Linked DNA regions of Homo sapiens. The protein of the gene in region 2 interacts with the protein of the main gene of each other region in a pairwise test. Each region holds a gene or a part of one and is shown on either strand. Other genes may lie near its edges.

What was found. The genes of interacting proteins can lie anywhere in the genome.
Region 1: the proteins of LONRF3 (region 2) and CTAG1B interact in binary tests that used the Homo sapiens proteins (3 or more experiments, as listed by UniProt).

Annotation. Positions count from the first base shown.
Region 1 is NC_000023.11:154,617,080-154,623,248, forward strand, and holds CTAG1B (cancer/testis antigen 1), read right to left. Parts: upstream 2,204-6,169; 5' UTR 2,140-2,203; coding exon 1,871-2,139; intron 1,195-1,870; coding exon 1,060-1,194; intron 821-1,059; coding exon 682-820; 3' UTR 530-681; downstream 1-529.
Region 2 is NC_000023.11:119,012,603-119,018,869, reverse strand, and holds the end of LONRF3 (LON peptidase N-terminal domain and RING finger protein 3), read right to left. Parts: intron 5,991-6,267; coding exon of another isoform or gene 5,969-5,990; exon of another isoform or gene 5,832-5,968; coding exon 5,669-5,831; intron 4,664-5,668; coding exon 4,514-4,663; intron 1,336-4,513; coding exon 1,180-1,335; 3' UTR 515-1,179; downstream 1-514.

The sequences.
Region 1 (6,169 bases), about 36 Mb from region 2:
AATGATTTTTCTACAGACAGAATCTCGCTACATTGCCCAGGGTGGCCTCCAACTGCAGGTCTCAAGCCATCCTCCCGCTTCAAGCCTCCCACAGCGCTGGAAATACAGGTGTGGGCCACCATGCCCAACCCATATCACATGCTTAACAGTGATATGATAATGCTGGTTCTATGCATCTATTCAAGTACGTTTTCAAAGAATTTTTCCCAAGTAAAAAAGCTCATATGTTCAATGAAAACAATTTGGGAAAAAATTTAATGCTGACCTGGAAAAACATTATATATGCTACTGTCATATATTTAACATATAAATGCAAGTATATTGAGGAAAATATTCTAAAATGTCCACAGTAGTTAATGCTGAATGGCGGGACCCAGTGGCTTTTCATTTTCCCCCATTTCCCAAATTGCCTCCCGTTACCTTGTGCTACTTCAATCTGTGAATCCCAGAGCCTCCCCTGCAACCCGAGGACAAGGGCATGCAAGTCCGAAGGTGCCTTCGCTCGCCGAAAAGAGACTCAGACACGGAATCGTAGCTCAGTTTTATTTTCTACAGAAACAAACATGTAAGCCGTCCTCCTCCAGCGACAAACAATCAGGCCCCCACAATGAACTGGCCACTCGTGCTGGGACCATTCCCTAGGGGAGGAGGCATGACCTAGGAAGGGGCGCCAGGCTGGGCTTAGCGCCTCTGCCCTGAGGGAGGCTGAGCCAAAAACACGGGCAGAAAGCACTGCGTGATCCACATCAACAGGGAAAGCTGCTGGAGACAGGAGCTGATGGAGAGCTGCAGTTGGCGGTGGTCTGCAGCAGTCAGTCGGCTAAATGTGAGGGGCAGAGAACATCACGTTAAAGGCGACACCTCTGCACCCATCTCCCTGGGCTCCCTCGGGTGGCGGCGGGCCTGGTGTACCAGGTCTCTGTTCTGAGACCCTGTGCTGGGGTGTTCCCAGGTTTCTAGCAGCCTGACCGTGGGGTGTAGGCGGATCCCAGCCCCCACCCTGCCACGCTGTGACCGCCACCCACCCAGGCCCCATCCCTGTCCTGGTCCTGAACTGACATAGTCAGTATGTTGCCGGACACAGTGAACTCCTTCAGAAGCACCCCTGGCACGGGAAGCGGTGGGGCATCCTGGGCCAGGCTCCTGCGGGCCAGCTCTGCTTCCATGGGTGTCGCGAAAGGCATGGCGAGGTAGCTGGTGGGGGCCCAGTTAAGGCATCCTCTCCTAGGACTTGGCCTGTGGCTCCGGCCTGCTGCTTACCCCAGGCCAGCTTCCCCCTCCCCCACTCCCCCACCCCTCCCCCCTACCCCGGATTGCCCAGCCCATCCCCCCCAGGCTGTCTCCCCAGGCACTGGCCCAGTAGCACACCCCACCCAGCTGTCTTGGTTCCCCACTTTCCTTTGCTGCACCCCAAGCTGACTCCTCCATGCCCTTACAAGACCCCTCCCCACCCTGCCCCCTGTGGCATCACCCGGCCCCCTCCTCATCACTCGACCCTCCATCCCAACCACCTCCCGCCACCCGCTCCCATCTTGCCCCCTTCCCCCCACCTCCTGATCCCCTCCTACACCTGGGTCCCCCTATCTCCTGGCCCCTGCTCCCCTCCCCGCATGACCCGGTGCCCCTCACCCAATCACCCAGCCCCTCTCCCCCACCCCCACCCCCTCTACCTCCCAGCCCTTACCTCCTCCCCTCCTCGCAGCTGGCCTCTCATATCCCCACCTCCCAACCCCCACCCCCACCCCCACCCAACCACTTACTCGCATCTCCCCCGCCTCCTCCCCCACCTGGCCCTGCCCTCCCCATCTCCCGGCCCCCACCTCGCCACCAGAACTGTCAGAACAGAACAGAACAGAACAGAACAGAATACAACTCAAGCAGGCGGCTCTCCGGCCCCCTGGCCCCGCATCTGCAGCATCCATTCAGCCCTGAAGCCGCGCCGCCATGCGGACCCCGCGGGGCGCCTCCTCCCGGCCCCGAGGCCCTTGCTGCCCCTGCGCCCCGGGGACCTCTGCCGCCCGTGGCACCCGCCTCTCCTGGGCCGCCAGCATTGCCCCCTGGGCCATCAGGAATGCCAGGGCCTCCTGGGCCATCAGCATCGCCCGTCGAACCCCCTGTGCCCCGGCCTTCGGCCTGCATGGCTCCGGAGCCTCTGCCCGGCTCTCAGAGAGAAGGTCAGGGCCCACGAGGATGCGGAGGCAGAGAGGCTGCAGGAAGTTCCGCCCCCTGGCGTGAGATGGGCAGCCCGGGATCCTCAGGGCGCCTGCGCACAGGGGCCCTACTTCCGGCCCTGGGAGACCCCGAGTGAGCCCCGGAGCACGTGACCGGTTCTCACCAACCCCGCCCCTCCCCAAGAGAGCCCGGGCCGGAAGGTGGCCGCAATGCCAGCTTGGACCCCTCACCCCTGAGCAGCCGGCTGTCCGCCGGACCCCTGTCCCGGGAGCCCTGCAGGGAGTCAGGCACTGCGGGGCCCAGCCTGTCCCATCCCCCGGGTCTCCCTCACATCGAGGAGCAAGACGGGCCTGGGAACACGGGGCCGGGACTGTGCGGCCATCGTCCCGGACCCTGCCTGCCCTGTCCGTCCTTGGGGGAGCGCCCAGGACAGACCCCGGGGGGCAGGCCTCTAACTGGGCTCAGCAGCCTCCGTCCCTGTCCTGGTCGCCCAGCTGGTGGGGTAGCTGGAACTGCATGTCTGGTGGGCGTGGCCTCGCGCCAGCCAAGGTCTCCCAGGCGCCAGGTCCAGCCAAGGTGGACGGGAGGGCCCAGCGGGACCCGGGGCCGGATCTCACTCCTGGGTTCAACGGGTTCTGTCCCTGTCCTAGTCGCCCCGCCTGGTGGGGGAGCTGGAGCTGCGTGTGGGGTGGGTTGCGGGTGGCCTCCCACCAGCCAGGGGCTCCCGGGCTCTAGGCCTGGCCCAGGTGGACAGGCGGGACCTGCTGGACCTGAGGCTGGGTCGGGCCTGGCTCCTGGGTTCGGCAGTATCAGTCCCTGCCCTGGTCGCTCTTGCCTGGTAGGGAGCTGGGAGGTGACCCTGTGTCTGCTCAGTGGTGATCTATTTGTGTGTCTGGAAGGGGGTCAAATCCACGGGACAGGTACCTCTAGAGGCATGCAGGGGTGAGGGCGGCACGGCCCCGGGAGCTGAATGTCTGTGCCAGGCACACCTGTAGCAACAGGAGGTGACCAGACAGGGCCTAGCCCTGAGGAAGGGGGAGGTACTGAAATCCAAACCACTCTCCCCCACCTTCCAAATCCAGGAATCAGCAGCCTCTGCACCTGGGAAAAGCATATTGGCACTCATGTGGAAACTAAAAACGTTGATCTTTTGGAGGTAGAGCAGAATGATGGTTACCAGACGCTGGGAAAGGTGGGGAGGGTGGGGAGGTTAATGGGGACAAACATATAGTTGCATAGAAGGATTAAGTTCTAGTGTTTGATAGCACCGTAGAGGGACTATAGGTAATTATTTATTGTATATTTCAAAATAGCTAAAAGATAGGAAATGTTCCCCAAAAAAAGAAATGATAAATGCTTGAGGTGGTGGAGATCCTAAATACCCCGACTTGATCATTACATCGTGTGTGCGTGTGCATGTATCAGAATATCACATGTATCCCATAAATATGCAGAGTTATCATACATCAGTTAAAAATGTTTTTACTTACAGAAAAGAAAAATTCACCCAAGCTCTTGCGTGTACCTCCAGTTTATTATTTTCACTGCTGTATTTCATTACATATATTTCATTAAATGATGAATTTTAAAAACCAGAGAACACAACTTGTTAACACCTGGAATAGCTGAAAATCAGACATAACCCGGTTAGTGATTGCCATCCTTCCTGTCGTCCTCTGCTCAGTCTCCCCATTCTCAGACAGAGGCAGGCTAAAGTTCTTACCTTCAACAGGTCAGGGAAGGGAGAGTAAAGTGCATGTGACCCTGTCTTAGGAAGCAGGAAGACAGAGGGAGGGTCTCCGGGTCCCCATTATTTTCCCGGCCTATTATCCTCAGATCAAGTCAAGAAAGGAAGTCCTAACTGATTGAGAGATTCCTGGAGATACTGCCACTGTCCTGGAAGTCTCAGCCAGCCACTGGACCGGAAATCTCCATCAATATTTCAGCCAGAGCAACGTCTGCCACTAGATGGCATCAAACTCCAGCCGGGAGCAGGACAGATTTGGATGGTCCAGCGGGCTTGCCTCATTCATTTCATTAACCCCACAGTAACACATTTTCACATTGTATGCGATTGGATTTCTTGGAAACTACCTATTACATTACGGCAGAGTTTTATAGTCCTCTAATTTATCCATTCTGCTGATGATGGGCAGGCATTTGGATAGTTTCCAGCCCTTGGCTATGAACATGCTTGTACAGGTCTCTTGAAGCACATGTCCAAGTTTTTTTTTGGAATTGCTGTATCACAGCCAATACATATCTCGAAATTTACTAGATAATGCCATGTTTTCCCAAGTGGTTTGAGCCAATTTTCGCTTCCACCATAATGTGTCAGCGTACATACACATAGCTCAACATTCTCATCAATATTGACGGTACTAATCCGTTCTCGCATTGCTATAAAGGACTACCTAAGACTGAGTAATTTATAAAGAAAAGAGGTTTAATTGACTCACAGTTCTGCAGGCTCTACAGGAAGCATGGCTGGGGAGGCCTCAGGAAAGTTACAATCATAGCGGAAGGCAAAGAGGAAGGAGGCACATCTTATATGGCCAGAGAAGGAGAAAGAGAAAGTGAAGGGGGAGGTGCTATACACTTTTAAACAACCACATCTTGTGAGAGCTCAACATCACGAGAATAGCAAGGGGGAAATCGACCCCCATGATCCAATCGCCTCCCACCAGTCCCCTCCTCCAACACTAGGGATTACAATTCAACATGAGATTTGGGTGGGGACACAAATCCAAATCATATCATTCCACCCCTGCCCCCTCCCAAATCTCATGTACTTCTCACATTGCAAAATACAATAATCTCCTCTCAACAGTCCCCCAAGTCTTAACCCATTTCAGCATTAACTCAAAAATCCACAGTCCAAAGTCTCAACTGAGACAAGGCAAGTCCCTTCTGCCTATGAGCCTGTAAAATCTAAAACAAGTTAGCTACTTCCAAGATAAAATTGAGGTACAGGCATTGGGTAAATACTCCCTTTCCAAAAGGGGGACATCGGCCAAAACAAAGGGGCTACAGGCCCCATGCAAGTCCAAAACCCAACAGGACAGTCATTAATTCTTTTTTTTTTTTTTTTCCACTACAAAATAATTTATTCGAACACACAGCTACAGCGCGAGACTCCTATGTACAAGCACATTGACGCTCCTGACTACCCTCAACTAGAGGACCCTTTTCTTCCCCCTTGCCTTGCAGACCTCTTCTATCGAATCTTTCATGTACTGGATCTCCTCGGCCAGGGAATCCGCCCTCTCTTGCAGAGCCTCGTTCTTCTTTTCCACCGCTTTGCACTCACCAGTGAGGACCTCCTGCTCCACCCTCTTCTTCTGGCGATACCTAGTTCCTGCTGTTTGGTTTTGCTCCATTTTTTTTTCAGCTTCTTATCCAGTTTCTCACCCTTTACTTGTGCTGCTACCATCTTCTCTCCAGGAGGGTCATAAGGTTTGGGGCAGGCAGAGCCACAGAGGACACCTGGAGATGGCGGGCTCCTACTCGGAGAGCCCCTGGAGGTAGAGGGAGAGCCCAGATAGGACTCTGGGCTCATACAGATGCCACTATCATTATCTGAGGGGGCGTCTTCCTCCTTTGTGCAGTGAGGGATCTTGGAAATGTAAGCAGTGGAGTCTGGCTTCCTAGCTCCTTCAAAGATATCCACTTCACTGCCCAGCTCTAGACTAAAGGAATAATCTGGAGTGGAGGACTGGACCCCTGGGGAAAGGGGAAGAGGTTGCAAGAAGGTGAAGGGGGCAACCTGGTCGGGTTAAACTTTCTGGGAGATGGCAAATCGGGTTCACCATCTGGGGGGGGCTCCTTAATAGTCTCCTGGACTGGGGGGGCTCCTTAATAGTCTCCTGGACTAGGGGGGCAAAGAGATCACACGAGTCATCCAACGTGGCCAGAAGCTCGTCTGGCATGGTTTCCAGGTCATCTATACCCAACAGGGCATCAAAGTCGAACTCCTTCAGATCAGTTTTCTCCAACA
Region 2 (6,267 bases):
AGCCACCGTGCCCGGCCATCTGGTTCCTTTAAAAAGATTTTTATAGGGTTCTACTCTATTTGTCTTATTTACATTTTAATAATAAAAAGTCCTTATCAAGTGTTTCTGTCCAGGTCTTGATCCTCAGAACCCCGGGGAGAGGTGGGTTATGGAGGCTAGTTGGGCATGACTGTGATGTGCTAAACTGAACACCATTTCCTCTGAAGAGTTAATTATGATCCTGCCCAAAATCCGATTCCTAACTGCACTGGGGAAAAATTAGATACACGTACAATTAGATTGCTGAAGTAAATGCCTATAATAAAAATAATTCTTTCAGCTTTGTTCTGTATTACACACAGAAAATGAATTATTTTACTTTACCTTGGCATATACCATAATCTAGGCCAAATCCCTTAAGTATTTTATATTGTTTAGTTCAAACTGAAAAAAAAAAGTGGACTCTGAAGACAGATGATCTTAGCATCATTCTGAACTTCTTTTAAGCATCCATTTGGATAGATACGGAAATGGTCTAAGAACTAGTGTCATTGTAGTAAAAAAAAGATAAAAGCAAAAACTGCACACTTCTAGTATTGTTATTTCCCCCTAGGTACATGGTAAACCACATCAATAAATAAAGCAATGGACTTTTCAGCAATGTACGCTTAAATAGTTACAAACATACATGTAGAAAAAAGGATACAGTAGTGCAAAAAATAAATTATTAAAACAGAAAGAAGTATGAACATTATTTTACACAATGCTCTATAAAACCTGAACCATTTGGAATGAGACCTCAAGTCAGTGAAATTATACAGCAACATTATTAGTATCTTTGTTTTCACATTTCAACCACACAGTCATTGATCTATGAAAGAAAGAATATTAAAGCAAAACCACTTTAAACTTTTGGAAATTTTAATGTTAAAATCAAATTATGTTTTTCTGGGCTCTTAAACACCTCTGCTGTTTATGTAGTTATGCAGCATGTCAAGAAGCATCTTAAGACAGAAAGTTTCAAATAGGTCACATTCTTTTGGTCTTTCTACTCAATTTCTCTCTGTGATCAACAGCAGGCTGATGCCTCTGTTTGACACCCCCTTCTGTTAAGATATTATTGCAATTAGATATATTTACAAGAAGACTCCCCCCGACGGCAGTGGGGAAGGTGGGAGCTCCTCTTCGGCAATCCACTCACTAGTTTTGGTTTCGGGATATGAAGGCCAGGACTCGTCGAATACCATTCAGTCTGTCCTTTAAGGACCTCATTGCTAGGAAGGGGAGCTGAGCTCGGCTTTCCAAGGGAAGAACTGCTAACATCCACCAGCACCAGGCTGGGCCATTCGGGTTCATCTGCAACAGAGAAACACAATGGAGTCATCCTATTCCCATCCAAGAACATCAGTCTGCAGAGTTCCAAATGCTCAAGGTAAAGACCCCAGGTAGAACAACTCCATGTGGCAGATTGCTAATTGACCCTATATCTATTTTCCCCCTTATTTTAGCAGGGCATATAGCCACCCAGAAAAAAGACTGCATTTCTCAGCTTCCCTTGCAGCTAGGTGAGGCCATGAGACAAAGTTCTGGCTAATGAGATGTAAAGGGAAGTGATATGTGTAACCTCTTGGTCATGCTCTGGGAAAGAAGCATATGCCCTCTGCCTTCCTCTTTCTCTCCCTTTCCCCTAGCTAGAACATGGACGTGGTGAGGATCAGCCTTTCTCAATCAAGAGGATGAGGGAGACATTTTAAGGATGGTAGAGTTTTGTGATGAAGGAGCCTGGGTGCCTGAATGCTCTTGTGGAATAGAGCTGCCCTAACTGTCCAAGACTTAGCCCCTCCATCTTGTTTAAGCTCCAGTCATTTTTGTTTCTTGTTAAAGCAAACCAACCAGTATCCTAACAGATACACCATGCCTCCTAGCCAATGTGATTTTACAAGCTGGTATCTACTATGTAGTCTCTTCCACTTCTAATATTCTGTTGAGGTCCTTTGGACTGATGCATTTAACATTCAGGCCTTCGATTCCCATGACCCCTTGACCTTTGCATGTCTTTTAAGTCCCCTCATTTCCTTGATGTGGCTGAAGGCAATAGTCCATGTATACCATGTCACTATACAGGGCCATAGCTCTCTTCTCCCCTGAAACCAAAGGCTATGATTTACAGTCCCAAAGAATCACAATCTCACTTTGCAAAAATTCCAATTAGAAAACATTCACATTAGAAATATATTCTGCCCCAGGGCCGGGCACAGTGGCTCACGCCTGTAATCCCAGCACTTTGGGAGGCCAGCGGGTGGATCACGAGGTCAGGAGATCGAGACCATCCTGGCTAACACGACGAAACCCCATCTCTACTAAAAATACAAAAAATTAGCCGGGCGCGGTGGCGGGCTTCTGTAGTCCCAGCTACTCCGGAGGCTGAGGCAGGAGAGTGGCGTGAACCTGGGAGGCGGAGCTTGCAGTGAGCTGAGATATGCCACTGCACTCCAGCCTGGGCGACAGAGCAAGACTCCGTCTCAAAAAAAAAAAAAAAAGAAAGAAAGAAAGAAAGAAATATATTCTGCCCCTAGATTTCCTTTTAATAAAGAGCTTTCCCATTCCACATAAATCCTTCCCCAAAGCAGCTTCCCTGGCACATATTTTAGACATTGGGTACTTATTTCCTTCTAAGCCTAAAACGAGCTTTCTGCCCACAACTTTCACAAGTTTGGTTTTAGGACTATAGAGAACCATTCTGGTCAAAGTGCCTACACCTGAAATTATTTGGCTCCAAATTGGTTCCTCTGATCGTCACCAAATCTCACTGCCTTCTTTGCTTCTTTGTGCCTCTAACTTCATTTGCATTCTTTTTTGTCCCTCCCTGAAGCTGGCAATATGCTCTCCCTCCTATGATCAGTTCTGAATATTAGACTGATGTTCTGAACTTTCTTTCCAAGGATCACCAACAAAGATATTTAAGCTGGTATTAACACTTGTGGCAGTTTCTAAGAAACATCCTCCTGACAGAACATGCTTATTTGTGGGACCACTGGGGATGCAGCATTGACTGGAGCAAACTGGGATGGGTATGGGTTTTTCTTTTTTGCTGGTGCTGCTGCTGCCAAAGCAACATAATAACAGAACTAAGAAAAAAGGAAGTGAAACCCAAGATTTCAACTTTCTCTGTCATTAGCCTTTATGAATCACACTGTAGCATCTGTGTTTTCCCGTTACCATTGCTGATCTGTATCTTTTGCCTAAGGGAGAACGCTTCCCGGAAGGTGAAGGGGAACATTAAGCTTGATCGTGAGTTTGCTCAGAGGTATATGCTGCAGTCCTGACTCATCGTGGCCCAGAGCCAGGAGCTGGGTCACAGGAAGCACTAACTGGCCTTTCTCCCTTGAAAACTCATGATGCCTTTGCATGGGGGGGGAAAGAAGCCACCTTTGTGGTCTGAGGAAAGCAAGACATTTCATTTAGGGAACAGACTGGTGTCTTAGAACCTCAGAATGCAAGAGGAAGAGGGGGCTTTAGAACCCTCCTCATGTCAGAGATGGGACAAAAGTTGAGAAAGGGAAAGGAATCTTCCCAAGGTCATACTGCTAGTGAGGTAAGCAGGACCAGACTTTTGGTCAGAATATGCATATTGAGATTTTTTCTTTTGTGACAGAGTTGGGGATGAGCATAAGTAAAGAATCAATGTAGGAGAGCCAGCTTGGAGCATAGGAAGAGATGGTCGTGAGGAAATATGTGGTTAGGATATCTCCAGCCTTATCCTAGAAAGACAGTATTCCCTGATTTATTCCAGGCAAGCAAAGCTTAGTGAAACTTAACCATCTCCACTCTCCTAGGGAGCTTCTGATCTGCAGCTTGATCTTTCAAATAGGCCTATCCCCCAGGAAGAACACTGATCAGTAGAACCTAACAAACTACTGTCTAGTATAACTCAACTAACAGTATTTAATGATGAACAGAGCTGTTCAGCCCTGGTGAGGACAATAGCAAGGGTCTAGACTTGCAGGGCGAAGCATAGATAGACCGAGGCACGAAAAGTTTTTGTGGTCTTGCAGTTGTAATCTTATAAGGGTAGCTGGCCCTATCCCCTAGTTCCCAAAGCAATGAGGGAGAGGGTTATGAAGTTACCTGAAAGCAGCAGCTTTTGGTCTCAGCTCCCAGGATACCCTTCTCTTAAGTCCTGGCCTTTGCATGTAACTTGTCACCCTAACACTACCATGGTGTGAATCTGGACTCCCATGGAAGGTTCTTCTGTTGGTGATATCTATGTTCCCATTCTCTTATCTTACTTAGTTCTCAAAACCTGCCTTGGATCCAAGTTCCTACTGCTTTACTTTAGTTACCCCGATTCTAACTTGGGATCTTTTTGGTCTTACTCATGACGCTCACTGTGCAGCCAAACAACACCAAATTAAATCCATCTTCCTCTCTGCATTCGATGTGCTGAATGGCAGCCACATACCCATCTAATCACAAACACTAGGCACTCTCTTCTAGTGGGACAACCCGTTTAAAAATAGACATTTTTCTATACCTGAGGATCGGCGTCTTTCTCCGGCATGGGACCAAAGTGATTGAGTATCCGATTCTTTAGGGATAATTTGAGCGAATGAAACCACAATGATGCTTGCTGATAGACACAGTTATGTAATCCCATGAGCTCAGCACAATCCTCTCCCTGAACCTGAAAGTATCAAAGTGGAAGTGAAACATTCTGTACCCTCTCCATCATTCCCAGAGTCACTTTTGACACCTGATTCGCTTTGAGCATCCATCCTGCCTTCCTATGGGAAGGCTCACCCATTCAGCTTTCTCCTTTGCTTGATGTGAAATGCCCCTTAGTCAAGTGCTGGACAGTGTGTAGATACTGCTGACCATGGAGGAAGGAGAAAGGTTCAGCTGGGTAGATTAGCTGAAACAGCAAAACATGCAGAAAACCAGAGATTCAAACCGGCCTGAGTGGAGGCATGTGGTTAAACCAGGTTATGCTGGTCCATGCCTTTGCCCTTTTCATTTTTACATCTGTTTTCTCATTACTTGCTGGAAAAGACACAGGAGTATGTCAGTCTCAGCATGTAACTATCTTGGTCAAACACATTTACTCAGTCATCAGATATTTATTAATCTACTATGTAACAAATGTAAATATAAATGAATATAGGATTATTTACCTCTTCTTCCACCCATTACCTCAGAAAACCAAGGATTAACTAGATGTGTCATCTTTCTGCCTTAGGGGATGATGGATTATTGGGAAGGGCTCTTAGCCAGGTTACGTACTTTAAAATACAAATGCATGTGTGGATCTATAATTGTCTCAAAAGAAAAAAGTTTAAAATATACATAAATCGATAGATAAAATATATATGTATAGACCCACCCCAGATCCATTCCTTGCAATCTTTGGCAGAGACTTAACTCCCAAGCTGAATGAGCCCCAGGGTTGATCTAGGATAACATTTCCTATGCATGAATGCAACTCAGCAGCTAAGCAGAGCCAGGACAGTAGGCGCCCTCACTGCCATAGTGCAACTGGACAGCAATCCAGCAGCATTCAATGTTGCTGCAGCAATTTGGTGTGAAATCCCAAGGCCCTCAAGGGTTCTGAGAAATCCTTTCACAACTATCTTTGTGTATCAAGTTACAAGGATAGCCTGGCTTTGGGATTCTTGGCACTGGCCACCCTTACCTTTTGGTCTTCAATGTATTCAATGTCGGCTGTGTTGTAGCCATCCCGCTGGCTCTGATGGAGCACCCTGAAGCGCCTCTTGCCTATGCTGTCAACCACTGAGCGGCCATCAGCAAAGAATTGAACATTTCTGATCTCTAGGATGCAGCCATATTCTGCAAACCTGTTTATTGAGAATGGAGTCGAGAGACTAGATCCTTGATGAGTTCTGTTTCCCTGGGCTGGCACCCAGCCATTTCTGTAGCCCCATGCTGTGGCTCAAGGGACTTCTGCCTATTTTCCTGTCCCTGGGTTACAGCTTCAATTACACAACAGGCAGTGCCTGTGTGAAGAAAAAAAATTCGTAATGTATTCGTGTAACTGCTACCATTTATTGAGCACATACTATGTGCTGTGCCAGTGCTATGGTTTGAATGTTTGCCTCCTCTACAACCCATTTTGAAATTTAATTGCTATTGTAACATTATTAAGAGGTGGGACATTTAAGAGGTGATTAGGCCTCCACCCTCATGAATGCATTAATGCTGATATGGTGAAAGTAGAGTAGGGTTGTTATTAATATAAAAGGGCAAGTTTGACCCCCTTCTTTCTCTCTCTCT